2 linked regions of the Homo sapiens genome follow. The protein of the gene in region 1 interacts with the protein of each later gene in a pairwise test. Each region holds a gene or a part of one and is shown on either strand. Other genes may lie near its edges. The genes, in order: CYB561A3 and AOC1.

Region 1 (3,814 bases):
CCCGGCTGAATTTTAACACCCTTTCTAAGTCCCTGCAAATATTTGTATAATGAGCCAGGTGCAGCGGCTCACTCTTGTAATCCCAGCACTTTGGGAGGCCAAGGCATGAGGATTGCTTTACCCCAGGAGTTGGAGACTAGCCTGTGCAACATAGTGAGATCCTGTCTCTACAAAAATAAAACTTAGCTAGGTGAGGTGGTCCATGCCTGTAGTCCTAGCTTACTTAGGAGGCTACATTGGGAAGATCGCTTGAGTGCAGGAGTTTGATGCTGCAGTGAGCTATGGTCACACCATTGCTCTCCAACCTAGGCAACAGAGTGAGATGCTATCTCTTGGCTGGGGGGATAAAAGGAGAGAGAGAGGGTCTTCCTATGTTGCCCAGGCTGGACTCCTTCCACCTCAGCCTCCCTAGTAGCTGGGACTACAGGTGCATGCCACGGCACCCAGCTGTAATAATCCTTTTACCCATGAGGAAACTGAAGCTCAAAGCAATGAAATTAACTTGCCCAAAGTTGCATAACTAGTAAATGGCACAGCCAAGATCGAAACCAAGGTCTGACCTTAAGTCCTAGTTGCTTTTCACTACACCCCATTGCCTCAAAAGAACGGACAGTAGTGGTCAGGCATGCAAGGCTCTAGAGTCAGACTGCCTAATCTGAGTCCCAGCTCTGCCACTTACTGGCTGTGTGCCCTCGGGTAAGTTACGTAACCCCTCTGTTCCCTCATTTTTTTTATTTTTATTTCTACCTGAACAGTCCTATTGCAGAATCTGTTCCCTCAATTGAAAATGGCAATGACGGCCGGGTGCAGTGGCTCATGCCTGTAATCCCAGCACTCTGGGAGGCCGAGGCGGGCAGATCATGAGGTCAGGAGTCCGAGACCAGCCTGCCCAGCATGGTGAAACCCCGTCCCTACTAAAAATTCAAAAAATTAGCCGGGCATGGTGGCACACACTTGTAGGCCCAGCTACTTGGGAGGCAGAGGCAGGAGAATTGCTTGAACCCAGCAGGTGGAGGTTGCAGCGAGCCAAGATTGTGCCACTACACTCCAGCCTGGGCGACAGAGTGAGACTCCATCTCAAAAAAAAAGAAAAAAGAAAATGGCAATGACAACAATACCAATCAATACCAATGATGTAGGGTGGTTGACAGGATTAAATGTAAGGTGCTTAGTACTGTTTCTGACACACAGCAGGTGCTAAATCAAACTGATGCTCAATAAATATCTGCTGACTTACCAATTTCAACCTAAAGAAAGATCAATTCTGTTACCTTCCAGATCAGGAGTGGACCCAACCCCAAAATCTCTCCTCCCTTGGGTGAGTCCTGTGATCACAGGGTGTATCTTTTGAAGACCCTATTCCCTCCTCTTCACCTTAGAGTTGGGGACCCCACTGCACTCACAAACTGAAGAAAAGCTTCTCATTAATGCCCGAAATGACGGATGCGATGGACAGAGAGAGGATGGCGGCTCCAAAAAAGACGTGGATAGGTTTTAGGAGGCTGCGCAGCCACATGGACGCCCAGGGCAGGAGGAAGACAGCAAAGCCCAGGAACCACTGTGGACAAAAGGGAGGACACACCCGACTGTGCTATGTGTGACCAAAGCACATCCCACCCCATCAGTGCCTCCTCCCCATCTCTGCTCCCTGGCTCTTCTTTCACAACTCAAACCTTCCCACCTGGCATTGCCCACTACCGTGCTAGCTTCCTCATTGTGGCCTATTACCCAAGCAACAAGAACAGTAAATGACATGCTTAGCTACCATCCCACTCCCAGCAAACCCAACCACCTTGTTTGTCTCTGGTTCCTTCCAGTCCTTGCTCATAAAACTCTTCACTCGCACAGGCCTGAGATCAGAATATGGAAACCACTTCAAGAATTCTTTTGGTTCACAGAGGTGGGAGTGGGGAAAGTGGAAGCCAGATGGCTGATTAGAGTCAGCATAGTGCGTGCCATGACAAAGTTAGCAGAGAGGGCTCTGGGACGAGAGACGGGCAATGGGAGGGATAAAAGGAACAGGGTAAGTTCAGGCCACTGACCTCCCACAGCCCTTGAATAAACTGTCAGTTCTACAAGATAACAATCTGCAAGTCCCTCTCCAAGCAGTGAGCAGAGGAATATTTGGTGCTCATGCAAGTGAACCCCCAACCAGAGCTCATGGCTCTGGGAACCTCGAGGAGGAGAACAGAGAGAACCCACCTGGCAGGCGAAGAGGAAGACAGTGGTGATGCCCAGCCAGCTGTGAAGGGAGTAGAGGTTGGCAGTCCTTCCATGGTTGTGAAACGTAAAGACAGCAACCAGCCCCACAACAGTGAGGACGAAGGCCATCAGGTGCAGCGCTGCATGGAGGAGTTTCCAGGGCAGTTTGGGCCCCACCCACGACTGGGGCAGGCGGTACACCAGTGACGCTGCAGGAGAGAGTAGTGCCAGGGCTCAGCCTCTCCCCTCGAGCTCACCCAGACATCAGGGAATAACCCTGATAGGATCCTACACAGCTTCCCAGCAAGGGAACAGGAAATGCTAGGGCACTGGTATCAACTCCTCGGCATCTTCTACCCTCCCATGATTTGTGGGATAACAGCCATGAAGGGAGGAGAGAAGGGCCAGTTAAAAAGGGAGGAGTGGTCAGGCAAGGTGGCTCATGCCTGTAATTCCAGCACTTTTTGGGAGGCCAAGGTGGGAGGACTGCTTGAGGCCAGGAGTTTGAGGTTACAGTGAGCTATGATCATGCCACTGCAATCTAGCCTGGGCCACAGAGAGAAATAAATAAATAAACAGATTCCAATTAAAAAGGGAGGAGGGCTGGGCACGGTGACTCATGTCAGCACTTTGGGAGGCCAGAAGTTCAAGATCAGCCTGGGCAACATAGCAAGATCCTGTGTCCACAAAAAATAAAAATAAAAAATATTATCCGGGCATGGTGGCACATGCCTGTTCTCTCAGCTACTTGGGGGACTGAGGTGGGAGGATCACTTGAGCCTAAGAGTTCAAGGCTGCAGCAAGCTATGATCATCCCACTGCACTCTAGCCTGAAAAAGAGGGAAACCTGTCTCCTAAAAAAAAAGTGGAGGGGGGAAGCAGGTTTCTTGGACCTCTCATTCTATTTTCACAATAATAAATTCAGCTTGTTTGCAGTTTCTAGGCTAAAAAGCATCATGACAGTCATTGTTTCATCAAACTGAATTGTCACAAGTGAGGCTGGCTGTCAACACAGGTACTAAGGTCAGGCAACATAGGTCCAAATCCAGGCTCTGCCTCTTAGCTGTTTGGCCTCTCCTTTCTTTTTTTTTTTTTTTTTTTTTGAGACAGAGTCTCGTTCTATCATCCAGGCTGGAGTGCAGCGGCGCAATCTCAGCTCACTGCAAGCTCCGCCTCCCGGGTTCACGCCATTCTCCTGCCTCAGCCTCCCAAGTAGCTGGGACTACAGGTGCCTGCCACCATACCCGGCTAATTTTTTGTATTTTTAGTAGAGACGGGGTTTCACTGTGTTAGCGAGGATGGTCTCGATCCCCTGACCTCATGATCCGCCCACCTCAGTCTCCCAAAGTGCTGGGATTACAGGCGTGAGCCACCACGCCTGGCCTGGCCTCTCCTGTCTAACTCTCAATTTCCTCATCTGTAAAAGGGATATAACAGAGCCCACCTCACAAACTTGTAAGAACAAAATGGGATGATATATGTGAACTGCACATGGTAAGCTGCTATCATCAATGGCATCGTATTGCCATTTTACAAATGGGGAAAATGAGGCTCACCAGGGCCCCAAGGCACAGATTTGAAAGCATGGGACAAAGATTACAAAGATGGATCC
Region 2 (3,558 bases), on another chromosome or scaffold:
TTTTCTTACTTGCTATGGCCTGAAGTTTTGCCCTATCAGCACACAGAGTATCCTCATTCGTGTGTTTCTCTTACAATCAGCTAGAATTGCACTGTGAGGTTGTGCCACAGTTCATTCAATTGGGGTTTTCTACAGATGAGAATTTGGTTGTTTCCAGACTTTCGCTGTTACAAACAATGCTGCAATGAATCACTTTGTACATATGTCGTTCCTGTGTTTACAGGTGGATCTTGGGGATAAACCCCCTGAGGTTGGGCCAGTGTGCCAATGGATAAAGGCATGGTGATCCTGCTAGATCTCCCTGTAGCATCTTCTCTATGGTTGTGCCATTTTGCAAGCCTGTCACTGACACTGGGAAATTCCCTTGCAGCCTCCCCAAGAGAAAGTTGTCACTCTCAGATTTTTTTTTTTTTTTTTTTGAGACAGGGTCTCACTGTGTCTGTGTTGCCCAGGCTGGAGTGCAGTGGCGTGATCTCGGCTTCTCAGCTCAAGAGATCTTCCTATCTAACCCCCTCTGCCCCAGGACTACAGGCGTATGCTGCCCTGCCTGGCTAATTTTTTTTGTATTTTTTAGGAGAGATGGGGTTTAGCGTGTTGCTCAGGCTGGTCTTGAACTCCTGGACTCAAGTGATCCTCCCATCCTCCCGTCTCAGCCTCCCAAAGTGCTGGGATTACCAGCGTGAGCCACCGTGCCTGGCCAGTCTCAGATTTTAAAAAAACAATCTGATAGGTGCAGGATTTCAGCGAGCTTCCTTTTTGTTAGTAATGGTGGCTTTTCTGGACTGCAGTAGACCAGTGTGAATAAAGTACATGCCATGTGTGTGCATGTCCGTGTGAGTGCGTGCACGTCTGTGTGTGTGCACGTCTGTGTGTGTGTGCATGTCTGTGTGTGTGTGCACGTCTGTGTGTGTGCACGTCTGTTCGTGTGTTTCCTACACACATGGCCCTGTGCCTCCCCGCAAGAAGCAGCACACAGAGCGAGGCTCTGAGGGTTTATTGTCTGCCCCAGTGAGGCTCCTGGGCTTCCTGGGAGGAACTGGGGGAGGAACTGGGGGCTGGTCACACAGGTCTATAGGTCCCATTGTAGCTAAAAGGGGGAGGCATCGAGCAGTCCCTGTCCTCAGGGATCCAGCGCTGGACGTAGTTGGGGCCGTTGTCCCGAGGCCACACGATCACAGTGTCTCTGGATGCCAGGGAGGGGTCCTCTGGGAAGAAGTTGAATGGCCGGAGCAGGAAGCCCACGGAGTTCCCAGGTGTGGCTGTGTTGGGAATGTCCTCTGAGTGGGGGATGTGCAGGAAGCCCACCGTCACCCAGGCCACCAGGTCCTGCAGGAGACAGGGTGGGCTTCAGTGGGCAGGGCTGAGTACTGACCACTGGAGGCCACTCTAGCCTTTGGTCATTTTCAGTTCTGCCTGGAAACTTGCTGAATTCCTCTCCAGCCCCTTTTTAAAGAGATGAGCAGCTCTGTTGTGACCTCTGAACTTGCCGTCCACACAGCAAGGCACAGCTCCTGCGACTGGGGACAGATCTGGGCAAAGGGTGGTTGGGACTCCCTGATGGTGATGAGGATGGTCCTGGGCTGAGCTGGAAGGAGGCAGGGCCAGCACCGGGCAGGGCTGGGGACAGGGCAGTACCTCATTTTCAATGTTCTCGTTGTTGTGAAGAAACTGCTCAAAGACCACGGGCGGGTGCCAGGGGTCGTTCTGGTGGTAGATGCTGCTGCTGCACAGCTCCGACTCCCGGTACTTGGTCACTGCCAGGGGGTACCTGCCAGGCACAGGCGAAGCAGCTTGGCTCAGGGCCCTGGGCTGGCCCCCCTCAGTCCTGCCCAGGGAACAGCCTCAGGGTCAGAATAGAGGAAGATGATTGCCTTCCCCAAGATGACAGATCATCTGTCCTGGGAGTCAGCAGGACGGGCTGCTGTTAACCGGGTTCAGGTGACCCACAGGAGTCCTCCCCGCCCCCCTCCCCAAATGCACAGAGACACAGGCCCAGAACAGCAGGCAACCCTTGCACAACACAGGTGTGAGCTGCATGGGTCCTCTTTCTCTCTCTTTCCTTCCTTCTTTTCTTTTCTTTTTCTTTTTTTTTGATGGAGTTTTGCTCTGTCACCCAGGCTGGAGTGCAGTGATGCGATCTTGGCTCACTGCAACCTCTGCCTCCCAGGTTCAAGTGATTCTCCTGCCTCAGCCTCCCGAGTAGCTGGGATTACAGGCGCCCACGACCACACCCGGCTAACTTTTGTATCTTTAGTAGAGACAGGGTTTCGCTGTGTTGGCCAGGCTGGTCTCGAACTCCTGACCTCAGGTGATCTGCCCACCTTGGCCTCCCAAAGTGCTGGGATTACAGGCGTGAGCTCCTGCGCCCAGCACACAAGTCCACTTTCATTTGGAGTTTCTTCCGCCTCTGCCACCGTGAGACAGCAAGACCAGCCCCTCCTCCTCCTCTTCCTCAGCCCACTTAAAGTGAAGGAGACGAGGATAAAGACCTTTGGGATGAGCCACTCCCACTTAATGGATTGTAGATATATTTTCTTTTCCTTAGGATTTTTTTTTTTTTTTTTTTGAGAACTAGTCTTGCTCTGTTGCCCAGACTGGAGTGCAGTGGTGTGATCTCGGCTCACTGCAAGCTCCGCCTCCCGGGTTCACGCCATTCTCCTGCCTCAGCCTCCCAAGTAGCTGGGACTACAGGTGCCTGCCACCATGCCCAGCTAATTTTTTGTGTTTTTAGTAGAGATGAGGTTTCACCGTGTTAGCCAGGATGGTCTTGATCTCCTGACCTCGTGATCTGTCTGCCTCAGCTTCCCAAAGTGCTGGGATTACAGGCGTGAGCCACCGTGCCCGGCCAGGATTTTATTAATAACATTTTCTTTTCTCTAGCTTACTTTATTGTAAGAACACAGTATCTGACACACAGAACCTACAAAATATGTGTTCACGGAATGTTTCTGTTAGTGGTAAGGCTTCCGGTTAACAGTAGGCTATTCGTAGTTACGTTGTGGGGGAGTCATAGTTACACTTGGCTTCTTTACTGCTTTGGGGGGTTGGCACCCCTACCCCCCATATTGTTCAGGGTCAATTGTACACACAGATATACACATACGTATATGTGTATATCCACATAGACTAGGAACCCCATAGACACAAACACAGACAGACACAGACACACACACTGAGGGAAGCCACTGACCCTCCCCCAGGCCCCCTGGGTCTTCCTCACCTTGCCCAGGTGATGGCCTGCTCCTCCTGCCAGCCTGGGGGCAGCACCTGGTCGGCCATGGAGTGGATCTGCAGGCGGTACGTGCGCTTGTGGCCCCAGGGGTTCTCCTGGGGGCTGGTAAAGAGCAGGTACTTAGGCAGCTTCCTTTTGAAGCGGAAGGCCGCCTGGCGCTCCCAGGAGTACTGCGTCTGCTCCAGAGTTGGCTGGACCACGCGGTGTCTTGGGCTCCAGGGGTTGGTGATGTTTTCTAGCTTCATCTGCAGTGTCTGGAAGCTGTTCTTGGTGCCTGGAGGTATGCAGGGAGAAGGAGAACGAGAATCAAGCTGCCAGAACTGAAA

The links.
Region 2: the proteins of CYB561A3 (region 1) and AOC1 interact in a two-hybrid assay, tested with the Homo sapiens proteins (one large-scale study listed by BioGRID).

The regions. Positions count from the first base shown.
Region 1 is NC_000011.10:61,351,582-61,355,395, forward strand, and holds part of CYB561A3 (lysosomal membrane ascorbate-dependent ferrireductase CYB561A3), read right to left. Parts: intron 2,412-3,814; coding exon 2,203-2,411; intron 1,982-2,202; exon of another isoform or gene 1,851-1,981; coding exon of another isoform or gene 1,793-1,850; exon of another isoform or gene 1,602-1,792; coding exon of another isoform or gene 1,559-1,601; coding exon 1,404-1,558; coding exon of another isoform or gene 1,279-1,403; intron 1-1,278. UniProt on the Homo sapiens protein: Transmembrane reductase that uses ascorbate as an electron donor in the cytoplasm and transfers electrons across membranes to reduce iron cations Fe(3+) into Fe(2+) in the lumen of the late endosome and lysosome.
Region 2 is NC_000007.14:150,858,711-150,862,268, reverse strand, and holds the end of AOC1 (diamine oxidase [copper-containing] isoform 2 precursor), read right to left. Parts: intron 3,507-3,558; coding exon 3,221-3,506; intron 1,826-3,220; coding exon of another isoform or gene 1,769-1,825; coding exon 1,636-1,768; intron 1,327-1,635; coding exon 1,060-1,326; 3' UTR 765-1,059; downstream 1-764. UniProt on the Homo sapiens protein: Catalyzes the oxidative deamination of primary amines to the corresponding aldehydes with the concomitant production of hydrogen peroxide and ammonia.